3 separate regions of the Homo sapiens genome follow, and regions 1 and 2 are each linked to region 3. Evidence: fine-mapped expression QTL. A gene starts in region 3. Each other region holds a variant in brackets. All regions are shown on one strand. Distances are between the middles of the regions.

Region 1 (2,758 bases), 54 kb before region 3:
GACCATGTGTGGAGCCAGTTTAAATCCTACTCAAGAGAACTGCCTGGATGCATAGTGGGGCTCTTCATGTGGAAAAGAACACTGGAAAACAAAAGGATAATGAGAGAGTGGTGGCTATAGAAATAGAATACATCACCTCACTTCAGGAAGTTGCCACTGCCTTTGGAAAGCGCCCCCAGGGAAGCCTCTGATGGAGCCATACAAATGCTCATGAGATAATTCTTAACATCAGCCAGGCCTAGACAGCATGAAGCCACTAATAACCCTTCCTCTTCATTCTGCCCCATTCCTAGAAATATCAGTGTAGCAAAAGGAGAGAAGCCAACTACCCCCTCTTTCACAGAGGCGAGCTGGCTGGCTCTGTTGACCCTAGCTGTGGGGTAGAGAGATTCTTACCTATGATGAAAATTGATGTGTTAATATATTTCGGACCAAGAGTATGTTTTGCTACTTAAAGTGGTTGCAAAGACTATTACCTAAAGGTGATCCACATCTGAGGAAAACCTCTCCCACTGAAATAAATTGTGCAGAGACAGGGGAAAACAAATTAAACTTTAATTTTCATTACATTTCTTCAGTTGGTACTTGTTAAGCATTCCAGTTATGGTCACCTTTGTATTCTCTGAGGCACTTAATTGGCACTCATGATATTGAGATTATTCCTTCCAGATTGTAGTATGTAACCTTCTGGTTAATATCCTCTCTATAATAAAACAAAAGACAGTTTTAGGGACTTAAATTTCAATAAATCTGGTTGAGGCCAAGGAACCAGAAATAAATTGAAAACTCAATTTATTTCAAGGAAACTTGAAATAAATTGAAATAAAGTTAGTTGGAAACTAACTTTAAGATAATCTAGTTCCAGGCCAGGCACGTGGCTTACCCTGTAATCCCATCACTTTGGCAGGCTGAGGCAAGCGGATCTCTTGAGCTTAGGAGTTAGAGACCAGCCTGGGTAACACAGCAGAACCCTGTCTCTTAAAAAAAAAAAAAATCTAGTTCCAACGAATGCCTCCTCAGTGAATCTTTTTCACAGTATCCCTGGAAAGTGAATATTTAGTCTCTTGAATAACTCCAGTGTCTTGAAATCTACTATCTTCACCCTCATGAAAACGTCAAGAGTTTGAGGACCACCTCTTTCTACATCTACTAGCCTAAACATTTTCCCTCCCTTTAGCTAGTCCTCCTTGACATAGTGTGGACTCCTGGCATCACCTTGTCTACTCTCTGGATGAGCTCAAATGTGTCAGTGTGCCTGTCTAACTTTGGTCCAGATGTGGCCTCACCAAGCCAAATAGAACTAAACCATTACCTGCTTGCTTGTAGACCTGGACCGTAGGAGAGCCCAAGGCCCCCTTAGGTTTTCTTTACTACTTATGCTACTGACTCATATCAAACTGACACCTAAGCTGGACATGGTGGTGCACACTTGTAGTCTTAGCTGCTCTAGAGGCTGAGGCAGAAGGTAGCTTGAGCTCCAAGAGTTTGAAACCGGCCTGGGCAACATAGCAAGATGCCCATCTGACAACTGACAAAAACCTACA[G/A]GTGTTATTTTCGGGGTAAGGTAGGGTTGTTTTGATTTCATAATAATAAATTAATGCATTAATTTTATACAACATATAACATTAAAAACCTTCATTCAAAAAAAAAACAAAACTACAGGTTGGACATGGTGGCTCACGCCTGTAGTCCTAGCACTTTAGGAGGCCAAGGTGAGCGGATTGCCTGAGCTTAGGAGTTTGAGACCAGCCTGGGCAACATGGTGAAACCCCATCTCTACTAAAATACAAAAAATTAGCTGGGCATGGTGTACTCCTATAGTCCCAGCTACTCGGCAGGCTGAGGCGGGAGAATGGCTTGAACCCAGGAGGTGGAGGTTGCAGTGAGCCGAGATCATGCTACTGCACTTCAGCCTGGATGACAGAGCAAGACTCCAACTCAAAAACAAAAAACAACAACAACAAAAAAAGCCGGTCGCATGGCACATGTATACATATGTAACTAACCTGCACAATGTGCACATGTACCCTAAAACTTAGAGTATAATAAAAAAAAAAAATTAAAAAAAGAAAAAAAAAAAAAAAAAGCCGGGCTTGGTGACTCATGCCTGTAATCCCAGCAGTTTGGGAGGTCGAGGCCGGCCGATCACTTGAGGTCAGAAGTTTGAGACCAGCCTGGCTAACATGGTGAAACCCTGTCTCTACTAAAAAAAAAAAAAAAAAAAAAAAAAATTATCTGGCCGTGGTGGCAGACACCTGTAATCCTAGCTACTGAGGAGGCTGAGGCAGGAGAATCGATTAAACCCAGGAGGCGGAGAGGCGGAGGTACGGTGAGCTGAGATGACACCACTGCACTCCAGCCTGGGCGATAGCGTGAGACTCCTCAAAAACGATGAAAAAAAAAAAAAAACTACAAACAAGGCTTCCTTGCCATTATTCCAAGTCCTGGTCCTTTCCTTCCAGAGATAAACACTGTTTAATATTGATTATATATCCTTCCAGCCCTTTTTCTATGTATTTACATGTAGAAATATATGGGAATTTTTTTTTTTTTTTAGACGGTCTCACTCTGTTGCCCAGACTGGAGTGTAGTGGCATGATCTTGGCTCACTGCACCCTCTGCCTCCCAGACCAAGTAATCCTCCCACTTTGGCCTCCAGAGTAGCTGGGACTACAGGCACATGCCACCACGCCTGGATAATTTTTGTATATTTTTTGTAGAGACAGAGTTTTGCCATGTTGCCCAGGCTGATCTTGAA
Region 2 (2,758 bases), 390 kb after region 3:
CAGTGAGCCCCCTGACCTCATCCAAGATACGGTTCTTGGCTCGGGTGATGGCAGAGTTGAGGGCATTGATCCACGATTCCTTCTCTTCTGGACTCACTGCCAGGAAGATCAGGTTGGGTGCCTGTGAGGGGAAGATTCCTGTTTCAGCCAGGGTTTTAGAGGTGGTGCCTCACCTTGACAATGAAGAAATAAGAGATTATAATCTCACTTTCTTAGACCTAGCTCCAGGAAGGAGAGATATTCTGCTTCCAGAGTCATCCATAACTTAAGGAAACCCAGCTTCTATTCCTGCAAAATGCATAGCTAGGAGGTTGTTTTAGAAATGACCAAGGAGGAGCTAAGAAGGATACTGAATATTAGTATGGTATTAGAGATAATTAGAGGAAGTCTGATGAAGGATAGGTATTAAAATACAAATCTTTCAATGTTTGAAGAAATAGAATGTGACAGGAATAACTTCCCTGGGTTCCCTCAGACAAGATGAATTAGATTCAGAACTTCAACCACCTATCAGGGTACAAGGACAGGGATTTTCTTCTAAGGGATGTAAATATGCACATGTGTGGATGTGTGTGTATAAGACAGAGAAAAATAAAGAGATATATAGAGAGATGATCTTTGTGGCTGAACAGGTTAAAGGGTGGCCTGCCTGGAAAGAAGGAAATGGCTACAATATTCTCAGGTGAAATGATAAAAGCCAGCAGGAGAGCAATTCAGGGAATCTGAACCAAGATTGCTGAGAGAGAAACTGAGGGGAAGGAGTTCTCCCCTGCCCCCTCCAACCCTGTCCATGTTCCAGCAGCCAAGGTGGCAGGAGAAACATACCGTGTTACCGGGCTGTTTGGAGTGGGCAAGAGTAAACTTGCTATGATTTTTCTTGCTCCTGCTCTTGGACTTCCGGAGCTCTTCACACTTCTCATAGTCACTCAGGTCAAATACCTCTTGAATATTTTTCTCATCTTTTACCTAGGGGAGGGTTGGGGTGAGGTGAGGAGGATAAAATTATTTAGCCCCTCCACCCAGACTGTTAGTTTAGATCATCTTGGGAAACAGAGGAAGCCTGAGGAGAGGGAGGCACGCCAGGAGAGGAGAGGGCCGTCTGCCCAAAGCCTACAAGGTCCTCACATCGAGGAGGACGCTAGGGCAGCTCCAAGTCTTGAATGTTAAGGTGTGTTTCTGTTTAAACCCCTTCTCTTCACTCTCCTTAGCCAGGCTGCCATTTCCAGAGTCCCACTATGCCTCTCTTCACCAACCGCCCCACTCTTTTCCTTAAGGACACAGCTTACATGTTCTAAAAAGGCTCACGTCCTTAAAGGGACATGGTAGATGGTTGATCCATTGCCCTCAGTAAGACAGACCTGTATGGCCCTTGATGGTCCACAGAAAGAAGATCAAGGCAGGGCCAGTTATCGGGGTGTCTGGAGGGAACGAGGGGCGGTCTCTGGCCTCCCCACTCACATGTGTGCAGTATAGCTCTCCCACCCCACCTCG[C/T]TTCCTTCTCTGGTATGTACAATTATAGAGACTCATCTTCCTTGTTCATTTCAGGAGCATCGCCACCACAGGACGGCAGCCCCGTGTTCAGTTTGCTGAATTTGTCCAGAGAAGCTGAAAACTACAATTACAGTTCCTACCCTTTCCTCCTCCCTCTAAGGTACTGTGACAATCCAAACTAACTCCTCCAGACCCCCTATCTCTAGGCAAGAATGCACTTAGACTCTCCCTGGGAGACTACACTTTAGACTTGGAAAAAAGTGACTTCTGTGACTTCTTGCCATTATTCCAGTTTGAGTGCCTGGGCCCCCTTTACTGCCAGGAAGCTCTTCCTCCTATCTAAACTTAGCCCTCCCTGCTATAGTCTCCGTCCCGCACTCTGGTTCCACCTTTAGCAGGTTTTAAGCAACATTTAGCTCTTAGCACTCCTGCTGAACGTCTCATCGAGGCCGCATTCCTAGTGACATTCTCCAACCCCAACTAGCCTTTTCTGAGCACTGCAAAGCAGCTCTAGGAACATTTCTTCGCAGGTTCATCTGAAACTGACCACAATGTTTTCTCTTTTCCCCTAAGGTGGTGTTCCTACAACTCTGGGACTCTGAAGCAGTGGCTTATGGATTTGTTTTGGCTAGCAAGGACCAAAGTTACAGAGAGGAGACTTAGTTACAAGTCCAGACCGTGCAGTCTGTCCACCCTCCGTGGCTTGAGCCCAGGGTTGGAACACCTCAGGAAAAACCTGGTCACGTTTTCCTGGAATGAGAATTAAAAGCACCAGCACTTGTCTCATTAAAACTAAACAAACAGATAAAAGTAGCCTCACGTCTTCCTTGGATGACATCTACCCACCCTGACTGAAATTATTTTCCAAAACAGTCCCCAACTTCCCAAGTTCTGAAATAGGACTCGTGTGCATGGAGGTGAACTCATCTATCCTCCTGGTTCCTGGAAACCTGGAAGTGGGGAAGTGGTTCTCCCTTCCATTACCCAGACCATCTACAGTCTTGTATCTGCCCATCCTTCTGAACTGCTGCTGGACCTGGAGGCTGATGACAGATGAGGACAGATGTCAACATGGCCCCATTCAGGTGAGTGACGCCTCATACATCTACCTCCATTTGTTTCAGCAAGGCTTGGCTCCTCCAGGGCCTCCCACTTTCCAGGGTTCCCTGGCTTTGGGCTGGAAAGTGGCCAGAGGCCTTGAATGATTACGGGTGGAAGTAGGACAAGGTGCTGGCAAGGGGTGTCCAAGAGCAATTCCCAGAAACAC
Region 3 (2,758 bases):
GGTAGGAATGTGCCTGGGGGCAGACACTCAGCCCCACTGCCCTCCCTGAGACCTAGGGTTCGGAATTTGAGGGAGGGGTCAGAGTGGCTGAGCCAGAGCGGGCGCCTCAGGGATTGGGGTTGGGGTGGGGGTTGCCGATGGCCACTCCTTCCCCTGGCTGGGCCGGCCACTAAGGTCAGCAACTCCACCCTGACTGAACGGGGGAGGCCAGGATCTCCAGAGAAGGGCCCATGTTCCACCCAAGTCTTCAGGCTCTGCCTGACTCTTGTTACTCCAGCTGAGGGAAGAAGAAATGGGGTGATAGTCACTGCCTGCCCCTTCTCTGATGCCGACCCCTCTTCATGCCCTCTCTGCCTCTGCTTCTCTCTGCCACCGAGATCTCTTCTCGCAGCCCCTCTCCACGGGTCTACCCAGTACACATAATCCCATCCCGAGCTGGGTTTGGCTTTGGCAGTTCCCTGGAGAAGTGAGGGGTGGGGGTGACGTGAGCTCCCGGGGCCCGGGCCAGGCCTGGCTCCCTCTCTGGAAAAGTCCCACCCCACCCTCCCCTGCGCAGCCCGGCAGGGGCCCATGCCCCCTCCTCTGCAGAAACACACGCACATTTATGCTTCTCACCCCTTTCCATGTCCCTCATTTGGTGTCGTTCCCGGCCCAGGACGAGGAAAGGAGAGGTCAGAGGTGGTCACTCTGGTGCCAGAGTAGACCCTGGTCTGGACAAACGCGGGCTCCTCCTGGCCACACCTCTCCACACTGCCCAGTGAAGACCAAGGAACAGAGACCTGCGCAGGGCTCACCCCTTCACCCCCAGGTCTCCCTGCTGGAGAGTGGTTGGACCCTGTGTTTCTGGGCCTAGCCATGGAGAATCCCTGTCCTGAGTCCGAATTCCCGGGCCCTCAGAGCCCTCCACTCCTGGGTCTGGCAGGCCACCCCAACAGGTGTCTTTCTTTTTTGTCAACCTCTTCTGCCATCGGGCTGAGCTGGATCAAGGGCACCCACCTGCGTCCCTCGCGGCGACCCTGTCCTCCAAGTTCAGGAGTGCAGTGGGGGACACACCGTCCGAGAGCACCCTCCTAGAGAGAGGGCAGGAGGCACCGGCCGCGCGGGGAGGTCATGGGTCTGTTTTCCAACTTTACTATGTGACTTAGGAGGAATTTTGGTTCACTCCCCGCCCGGGTGATGGGGCCAGAGTTCCACGGGATCAGACTCCCTCCCCAGGAATTCGACCCCAGGGGCTGGAAGATTGTCCGAGGCCACCGGAGCTGGGTCCGGGGTCGTGGCGGGGTCGCGACCGCACAGCGCAGGGAGAGGGGACGACGCGGGCGCGCGGGGCGGGCGGTCTAACGGGACCCGGGAGAGGGGCGGCCGGGGCCGGGGTCCCGGGGAGGTCTCTACCTGCTCTGCGAGCCCCCGGTGGCCCGTTAACCCTTCTGCGCCCAGGCGCTCTCTCCAGGCAACCTCGCTCCGCGGCGGCCACTGGGGCCCCTGAGCCGCGCTCCGGTCACGGCCGCCTCGGCCGCAACTCCGCCCTCGCGCCCGCCCCCGCCCAGCCCCGCCCGCCACGCGCCCCAGCCCGCGCCCCTCGGCGGCCCCGGGGTGGGGCCGGTCTGCCTCGCAGCCCCACTCGCCAGGACCACCCACCCCGGGCTGCGCGCCGGGCGCCCCCCGACGGCTGCGTGAGCTGAAGCCCGGGCTGGCCCAGCCGGGGTCGGAGGCTGCAGTCGCTCCCGGGCGCTGTCCTCGTGCCCGGCCGAGACTAGGGACTTAAGCAGCCCGGGCTGGCCCAGCCGGGGTCAGAGGCTGCAGTCGCTCCCGGGCGCTGTCCTCGTGCCCGGCTGAGACTAGGGACTTAAGCAACCCGGGCCTCCGAGCCGCTCGGGTGAGCGGTGCGAACACGGCGCGGCGCGGCGCGGCACAGGCGGGGCAGCCTCCAGGGGCGCCTGGAGCGAGGCGGCCTGGGAGAGCCGCTGGTCCGGGAGGGAAGCGCCCTGGACGGAGGTACCCGCGGCCCCCGATCCGCGTGGGTCCAGGCTCTCCCCTCCACGCAGCCTCCCCTGCAAACTCAGTCACTCCTGCCTCTCCCGTGTTGGGCAGTGGTGGTTCAGATTGCTGGGACTTCTATGAGCTTCGGTTTTTTTCCTCAGTAAGGTTTTACACTCGGGACTCAGCGAAAGGACAGCGTGCTGACTTCTGAGTCAGACTGATCTGGATTTGAACCTCAGCTCCAGCTCTTGCCAGCTATGTGGTCTTCGACGAATACTTCCACCCCTGTGTGGTGCAGTTTGCTCATCTGCAAAATGGGACTAATCTAATATATATGATGGGCTTGGATATGTCTCTTTATGCATTTATACATGGAAGAATGCACCCCAAACTCAGTAGTATTGGTGACATCTGGGGAGGGATGCAGGGTTGGGGGAGGACTGAAAAAGGCTTTTGCTTTTTACTCTGCGTTATGTTTATTATTATTATATTATTATTTATTTATTTTTTTTGAGACGGAGTCTCACTCTGTCGTCCAGGCTGGAGTGCAGTGGTGCTATCTTGGCTCACTGCAAGCTCCGCCTCCCAGGTTCACGCCATTCTCCTGCCCTAGCCTCCTGAGTAGCTGGGACTACAGGCGTCTGCCACCACGCCCGGCTAATTTTTTGTATTTTTAGTAGAGACGGGGTTTCATCGTGTTAGCCAGAATGGTCTCGATCTCCTGACCTCGTGATCCGTCCGCCTCGGCCTCCCAAAGTGCTGGGATTACAGGCGTGAG

Which allele goes with the higher level. Alleles are on the strand shown, and positions count from the first base shown. SD is a standard deviation of normalised expression in the study named. Not every link is listed here.
For the expression in monocytes of the gene that starts at base 1,484 in region 3, T is the low allele of the variant in region 2 and C is the other (large effect, 1.8 SD a copy in Fairfax 2014).

What was found. PIP is the estimated chance that this variant, and not a neighbour inherited with it, causes the effect.
Region 1: its variant is the best candidate, but not a certain one, in a credible set for the expression of ADAMTSL4 in whole blood (INTERVAL, PIP 0.56).
Region 2: its variant is the best candidate, but not a certain one, in a credible set for the expression of ADAMTSL4 in monocytes (Fairfax 2014, PIP 0.58).

Annotation. Positions count from the first base shown.
Region 1 is chr1:150,602,065-150,604,822 of GRCh38, reverse strand. LOC107985203 (a long non-coding RNA gene) reads right to left here. Exons shown (of 3, transcript NR_186818.1): 3 at 539-703. Among named protein-coding and RNA genes, the nearest start is that of MCL1, 24 kb to the right of the region's middle. RefSeq lists an enhancer at 1-193. The variant G/A (reference allele first, on the strand shown) is at 1,545.
Region 2 is chr1:150,154,274-150,157,031 of GRCh38, reverse strand. PLEKHO1 (pleckstrin homology domain containing O1) reads right to left here. Exons shown (of 6, transcript NM_016274.6): 3 at 826-966; 4 at 17-121. Among named protein-coding and RNA genes, the nearest start is that of LINC02988, 5.1 kb to the left of the region's middle. The variant C/T (reference allele first, on the strand shown) is at 1,492.
Region 3 is chr1:150,548,134-150,550,891 of GRCh38, reverse strand. It overlaps ADAMTSL4 (ADAMTS like 4), which reads right to left and starts at 1,484. Exons shown (of 19, transcript NM_019032.6): 1 at 1,393-1,484; 2 at 997-1,070. LOC124904417 reads right to left here and starts at 602. Exons shown (of 1, transcript XM_047438226.1): 1 at 1-602. The coding sequence starts at 602. ADAMTSL4-AS2 (ADAMTSL4 antisense RNA 2) reads left to right here. Exons shown (of 6, transcript NR_187269.1): 6 at 2,142-2,328. RefSeq lists an enhancer at 1-278 and silencers at 1,614-1,753, 1,924-2,073, 2,005-2,299.